Homo sapiens: one gene and its partner. The protein of the gene in region 1 interacts with the protein of each later gene in a pairwise test. Each region holds a gene or a part of one and is shown on either strand. Other genes may lie near its edges.

Region 1 (3,823 bases):
CCTTATCAAGGTCAGCCTCCTGAAGGTCATAGAAGGCTGGAGAAGGAGGCGTGGCCGAGCCCCGGGCAGCAAAGTGGAGGGAGGGAGGTCAGGCCCAGGTGGAGCCCCGCAGTCTCACCAGACCTCCCAGTCTCCCCAGTGCCCTCCCTCTGGGTCCAACCTGGGGAGCAGAAGTGAGAGTGAGCCCAGGGAGGCAGGGTGGACAAGCCTCTCAGGCTTGAACACATGGGGCACAAGCTAGGGAAAGTGGCAGGCATCCTTCTCAGGAACAACAGGCAGTACACAGGCAAGGTAGAAAGGAGGCCCTGTGGGCTGCTCCCCGAGCTCCATGGATTCCCAAGGATCAGGCTGTCCCTAGTGCCCGTGGGCCCCTTACTGGGCCACCCACACAGCACTGCCATGGCCGTCCTGAGGAAGGGTCTTACCCAGTTTATCAATGGTTGTGATCAAGTCTGAGGGCACAAAGGAGTCCAGGTCTGCATCCAGAATGCCCAGGGGGTCCAGCTGGGCCACATGGTGACCCCGGATCTGGGAGGAGGGAAAAGAGCAGGGTGGGGCTGGGACCCAGCTGGACAGACCTCCTCCAGGGTAAGGCTCTGGGCCCCAGCCCCTCTCTTCCCATTCCCGAATGTTAAGCTTCCCCATGTCTCTGCCCCGCGGCTACTTCACTGCTGCCTGCGAGACCCCAGCCACAGCCAGTAAGGTGGCAGGAGCTCAACCTGGTTTGGAAGTACAACATGCACGGGCAAAAACAGGAAAAAGACCTATGCACAAAGGTGTTCACTGCGGTGCTACTAGTAATAGTGAAATTCTAGAAACTTCCCCACTGTCTATCAGCAGGAGACTGGCGCATGGATATGGGCGATCCACACAGCGGAGCACTCCAGAGCCATTAAAAGGAAGAAGAAAAATCCCCATCTGATACTACAAGGTAGTCTCTAAAAAATATTGTTAAGCAAAAAAGCAAATTCTAGCAAAGTATGTATGGTGAACTACACATTATCTAATAAAAAGGAGACACAAATAAATATATGCATTAGAAGGGAAAATCATAAAATTTAAAAAAACCACAACATAAGAAAAATTATCCTCTAGGGGAGGGGACAAAATAGGATAGAGAGGCAGGGCTAGGAGCCAGATTTTTAAGAAGTTATCTTACTTTGAAGATTTGACTTTCAAACCTTGTAAATATTTTACATTCTTATAAAACAAAATTAAGTCTTAAAAATTGAAAGTGAAATGAATCAAATGAATAAATATGTCCACTTAGTGGCATAAATACAGAGAGAAACCATTCCAATTGACTAATGGAACATTCCCTAAAGACAAACAGAAAAAAATTCATCAAGTCTTTTTTATTACCAGTCAGTCGTAATAGTGTTAGAATTGTTATGCTGGCTGGGCACAGTGGCTCACACCTGTAATCCTAGCACTTTGGGAGGCTAAGATGGGTGGATCACCTGAGGTCAAGAGTTCAAGACCAGCCTGACCAACATGGTGAAACCCCATCTCTACTAAAAATACAAAATTAGCTGGGCGTGGCGGCACATGCCTGTAATCCCAGCTACTTGGGAGGATGAGGCAGGAGAATCGCTTGAATCTGGGAAGTGGAGGCTGCAGTGAGCTGAGGTCGCACCACTGCGCTCTAGCCTGGGCTACAAGGAGAAACTCCATCTAAAAAAAAAAAAAAAAAAAAAAAAGAACTGTTATTCTAAGATTGTTGCATGTGAGCTCTGGGAAATCAAACAAGCCATTGTACTGGCATCTTTGAGAACCTCTATTTTTGACATCTCTAAAGGCAATGTTGCCATAAGATTGACAGGGTCAAGGACAAACCCCAAATCCCACATTTGTAGCACGTTAGAAGCATCAGTATAAACCCTTTCCTGGCTCTGATTCCTGAAAGGGCCCAGAAGTAATGATCAAACCAATAGCAGGAAACAGCCAGAGACCTGGACAGTTCTGGAATAGGCAGAAATGTACAAGCTGAGCTTGAAGCATCTTGTTATACCAACATCAAGGCAGTGTTCAAACACCACGAGTGCTGGGAATAAGGACAAGTTTTGAGCAACTATAAGGACAGTATACCTACAGCAGATTGAAACTCATCAAATATGTTTATATTCATGCATTCATATGAATCCAAAAAAAAGAAGATAAACTTTCATTAGTCACTTTTGGAGTGTGCTAGGGAATCACCTCATAATTTTGAAAATCACTGAATAAAAGAAAAAAATAAAGCAGTGATCCTGTCTTTCCTACACAATCTGCACCTCAGGATAAACAGAGTTAACAAACGGAAGTTTCTCCTGATAGTGGGACTTCAGTTAATAAAGAAGGCAAAACAGAATTGGCATATCACCATTTTTGCAACCCCTAGTGAGTTAATGGATCTAGGAAATCACTATCCACAGCTGCTAACTGCTCAAGTGCCATCACCATCACCACCAGGAAGCTGATTTTGAAAAAAAAAAAAATCAAATGTCTATGGGATCGAGCCTCTAGATCTAATTGTCAAAGTACAGAAATTACATGGGACAATGGGACAGATGAAATGACATCATGAGGAAGCCATCAGCAAAATCCAGACTTGGGAAAACCCTACAGGACAAACCACCTGGTTTTTCCACATCATAAAAAGAAACAGAGGGAACCTGCAAAGTACAAGAGACGTAAGAGCCACTTTAGCCTATTGCAACCTGTGGATTTAGCTGGATCCTGCTTCAAAGAAGCAGTAAAAAGAAAGCACAGGCTGGGTGCAATGGCTCACGCTGTAATCCCAGCACTTTGGGAGGCCAAGGCGGGCAGATCACTTGAGGTCAGGAATTCAAGACCAGCCTGGCCAACATGGTGAAACCCCGTCTCCACTGAAAACACAAAAATCAGCCAGGCGTGGTGGCAAGCACCTGTAATCCCAGCTACTCAGGAGGCTGAGCCAGGAGAATCACTTGACCACGTGGGGCAGAGGTTACAGTGAGTCGAGACTGCATCACTGCACTCCAGTCTGGGTGACAGAGTAAAACTCCATCTAAAAAGAAAAAAAGAAAGCACAGGACAAAAGGCAAACACAAATGTCAACTGCATATTTGATATTAGGCATTATTATGTTTAGATGCGATAATGGTATCATGGCACATTTTTTAAGAAGCCCTTTTCTCTAGACATACACAAAGAAATGTTCAATGAATGAAATGCTATATCTGGGATCTGCCTCAAGATAATCAGCAGTGAGCGGGGGCTAAGGGGGAAATTGATGAAACAAGGCTGGCCATGATTGATGGGTGGTGGGCTCACTGCACTATCCTTCTGCCTTTTATATGTTTGAAAATGCTTATAATAATACAGTGTTTTTTTTTCAGCACAGTGTGCAGGTGATTCTAACCACAGCTGTGCCTGCTACTCGCCTGTAAGGGGCTGCAGCCCTCCTGGTGGGAGCTCATCCACACCAGGCACAACAGAGTAACACACCTGAATCCAGAAGCCACCCTGCCAGGAAAACTCTCTAATGCCTCGTCTTGGTTAATCAAAGAACAAAGAGCTACTGAAGGGCTGAGATCTGTGCTTAGAAGATAAGGCCCTCGGGCAGCACCCTGAACGTTTCCCTGTATTTAATATACAGTTTTACATCCTTGTTCTTCATTTTTGAAGTCAAGGGTTAGATCACTGTCTGCTTCTTTCAGCCAGCCAGGAAAGACACAATACACAATAGCTGCTGTTTGCTCCTAGGTGGCCCACAATTGATGGGTCCTCAGGCCAGAAGGGAACCCAACCCTGCTCACCTTCCCTCTTCCATCCCCAGGTGGGTGGTGTACAGGGAACTCTG
Region 2 (3,823 bases), on another chromosome or scaffold:
TTTGCAGAGTACTCTTCTGTTTCAGGCATTCTGCCAACTGCTTTCCCCAAATTATCTTATTTAACCTCCATCACAAACGAATAAACAAGTACAAATGTGCTTCTCGTTTTACATTTGAGGGAATTGATGCTCAGAGACATGTAACTCACCAAAGGCCATCTACATGCTCTAGAAAGTAAATTTGAGCTTGGATCCTGTCAGAACTCAGAATTCATGCTTTAAAAGTGATTTTGTTTTAGTCTTTTGTATATTTTTGAAGACTTACTCTTTCATGGCTTGTTCATCATTTGTCAACAACACAGGCATTTCTGTTCATGAAAATGCTTTAGACAGGCCAAACAGAAGAGTTCTGTTTTAACCATTTCCTCAATTGACCTTATGGTACGCAATGTCATTAAGGTAGAAAGTTGCAGTGATTCTAACCACTGAAGATAGGCTTATGAGAACTGAAGCTATAAGGATGTCATTTGCTGGGTGTCCCAGAGCCCCAGTTTTTTAAGCTGGTCAGTCAGCTTGTCAGGATATGGTGCCCCTTTTCTCCATACTTGCGTCCGAATTGGAAATAGAGACAAAAACAGGTAAGCAGCTTGCAAAAATCTGGCTACACAGATTTTTCCAACCAACTTCTGTCTGACTCTAGAGCCAATGATGTTAATCACAACTGAGTATCTGTGTCTTTATAGCTTCCGTGGTCATAATAAATATATTCCTAGTACATTGCTGTGAATCTCACTTCGCTAATGCAATTCCATTTTCTTATTGATTTACACTGAGCATCAGAAATTCTTTCTGTCTCTTAAACATAATGGTAATCTCAGTCCTTACCCAATTAGTAGTTAATGATCAGTAAACAAGTCTGGAGTGTAACTGCTTTTTATTTGAATGAAATAATCACACTGAGTTTTTCTCATTTTGGAGAGAAATTTCTTTAAATATTTCCAGTTAAAATCTTGGTAAAACTGGCCTAGTATATACTGACATAGTTTCAGTAATATTCTATGTGCAACTTTGTTCTTTTTAGGCTATTTTGTTAATTTTTACTCTTTTCAGCAGTCAATACTATTTCCTTACTTATTTTTCCAGTTATTGGATTTTCTTTGTATTTTTATTCATGAAACAAAAAGGCCAGATTTGTTAGAAGTAAGAGGGGAAAATCAAACAACAATATATTATATTTGTAGAGTGCAATTCTTCCAGGTATACCTATTCTATCTAGCTTACTTATTAATCAGGACCCCTTTTTAAGATCAGGAGACAAGGAAACAACCACACATATACTGAGCAGCATTTCTTAGTTGATGGGTTGTAAAACCGATACCAAATTTTAATTCTTTCTTCAGAAAATATTTTGGATTTCTCTAGAAAATATTTTATATTCTAACTTTGAAACTCACGATATAGTCACTTGAATCATGATGACTTTCAAAGTGAGAATAGAAATAATAATAAATAAAATGATACATGATGAGAGACTTATGGTGCTAGATATAAAAATAAAATAAACAGATGGGAGAAATATAATGATTGTAAGGAAATATAAACTTTAAAAAGTGAAGTATCCCCTAGAAGGAGGAAGTGGTAGGTCGAGAAGTTGGTCAAAGAAAATGAAAATGAGTAGGAGATAATTTAAAAAGACTATAAGTGAAAGAAGAGGGAGGAGAGAAATTCCAAGAAAACAGATAAGTTTTAAAGAGCCAAATAAAATAATTAAATATATTAATGGAAATAATTGATACTGTTTTAAATGTTGGCATAAAAATATTGTAGGGATTTAAGATAAAGAAGAAAATGCTATAAAGTCCAAGTAAGTGAATATTTTGGACACCAAAGAATGCAGAAATGATGAAGAACAAGGAAAAAAATAGAAATAATGCTAATAGCAATGTGGTAGTTCGACAAAACCAGAAAATCCAATTTTGGTAATATATTTTTATTTCACAAATATTTTACAAGAACTTTCCCAGCCCAAAGTGTTGTGCCAGATGAATTGTGTGATATAAGCAGAAGTTTAAATTAATGTTTCTGTCTTTATGTAGCTTGCAGAATTGCTGGAAAGTCATTATATAGTATGACAAATATTAATGGCAAAAGTAGGTTGTACCTAAACACATGCCGAATAATTTAAAGAAATCATCTGTGCTATGAAGGCGTAATTAAAAAGTGGATAAACCACTAAGGATTCATCATCTTCCAGCTCCTCTGTTCCCCTAACCGCATGCAGTCCCACTTGCCCAAAACCTGCTGCTCCTTCTGTTTTCTTTATGTCAGAGAATGCCACTACCCTTCTCTCCATTCACAGGTTTGAAAGCTGTATGTCATCTCAGATGCTTCAAATATCCACAAGCCCCCATCACTAATACGGTGTTGCATCTCCTTAATCTAAATCCTCCTAAATCTCCCCTCTCAACCTCATCTTCTCCTCTCTTTCCTTTCCTGCTGGCACTGCTTTCCTTGAAGCTGTCTTTCTCTTTCTTTCATAGACTGTTTGTTTTTTACACACTTTCCCCTACAGTCTCTGGCCAGAGTACTATTTTTTAAATGCCAACTCAGTCCAATTGTGAAAAATCAAAATTTTTCAATGGTTCCTTTTTGCCTATAATGGAAAAATATCTAAACAAAAGATGGTTTTGCTGATGGATATTTCTGACTTTTCATTTATTTGTCCTAAAAGCCTCCACCACACAGTCCCCAGTATCTATCTCCCACATTTGCATTTTCCTCTTTAACAATACTTCACTATTTGCAGTTTCTAGAATGCCTGTGATTATTCTTGTCTCTCTGCCTTCTCACACGCTATATCCTCCTCCTAGAATGCCATCTCCTCTTACCTCACCCTTCTTGGGAAGGAAGGCTCAGGCTGTGATGTAAACTAAGGATCATCCTCGATGCTCTCATTGCATCATGGATACATTGGCCTCTATTACAGTATGTCTTCCGTTTTGCTTTATCTTTGTGTCTCCCTCCAGACTGTAAATATCTCAAGAACATGGAGCATAGTGTTTAAATTTCTGTCTCCTCCAGCACCAAACCCAGTGCCTGTCACATAGTAGATAGTTAATAACTGTGTTGAGTGAAGGATGATCTAGCGTGGCAGAAGGATGTAAGGCTTTGGACCTGATAGGAAGGAGAGAATGCAGGAGAAAGAGGTTGATGAAAGAGGGGAACTTCAATAGAGTGAAAATAATGATGAAAGGACAGAACAAGAAGAATGTAGGTGTAACCAGAGGCTGTCCCTTTCACAAAGCTCTTTCTTCCTCCCATAATATGTTTTATACCTTGTTTGGTAACAATAGTAAATGTGAATGCCCACTGTGAGCCTCATAGCGACAATTAGAAATAGTCAATATCATCCCAATTTTACAGAACAGAAACTCAGAGAGGTCAAGAAATGTGATCAAAGTCACACAGTCCACAAAGGGAGCAAGAGGACTTAAACACAAATCTGTCTGACTTCCAAGCTCATGATGTCATTGCTTATTTAATGATATTTATATCAGATCTTTAAAAGCTGTGCTCAGATTGCCTTATGTCATTGTTCCTGCATTTGCAATCACGAAAGCACAGGTTGAGGTGATGCCTCTCTCAGCCTGGATCACGTAGTAACCTCTACCCATGATGGACAAATAGTATAAGTAAGAAATAATTGGCTGTTTTAGACTGCTGAGATTTTGGAACTTTTGCCACAGCATAGCTTATCCTGTCCTGATTAACATAGCATATTCTGAAACATTCCCCAAGTGACTCAGACATGCTACCCTTGGCTGATTTTTTTTTTTATTTATAAAATGAGCAAGGCTCTTTTTAAAAAGTTCCAAATGTTGTC

Evidence for each region.
Region 2: the proteins of OGDHL (region 1) and SLC13A1 interact in a protein complementation assay, tested with the Homo sapiens proteins (one large-scale study listed by BioGRID).

What each region holds. Positions count from the first base shown.
Region 1 is NC_000010.11:49,752,213-49,756,035, forward strand, and holds part of OGDHL (2-oxoglutarate dehydrogenase-like, mitochondrial), read right to left. Parts: intron 529-3,823; coding exon 426-528; intron 37-425; coding exon 1-36.
Region 2 is NC_000007.14:123,193,266-123,197,088, reverse strand, and holds part of SLC13A1 (solute carrier family 13 member 1), read left to right. Parts: intron 1-3,823. UniProt on the Homo sapiens protein: Sodium:sulfate symporter that mediates sulfate reabsorption in the kidney and small intestine. Can also mediate the transport of selenate and thiosulfate.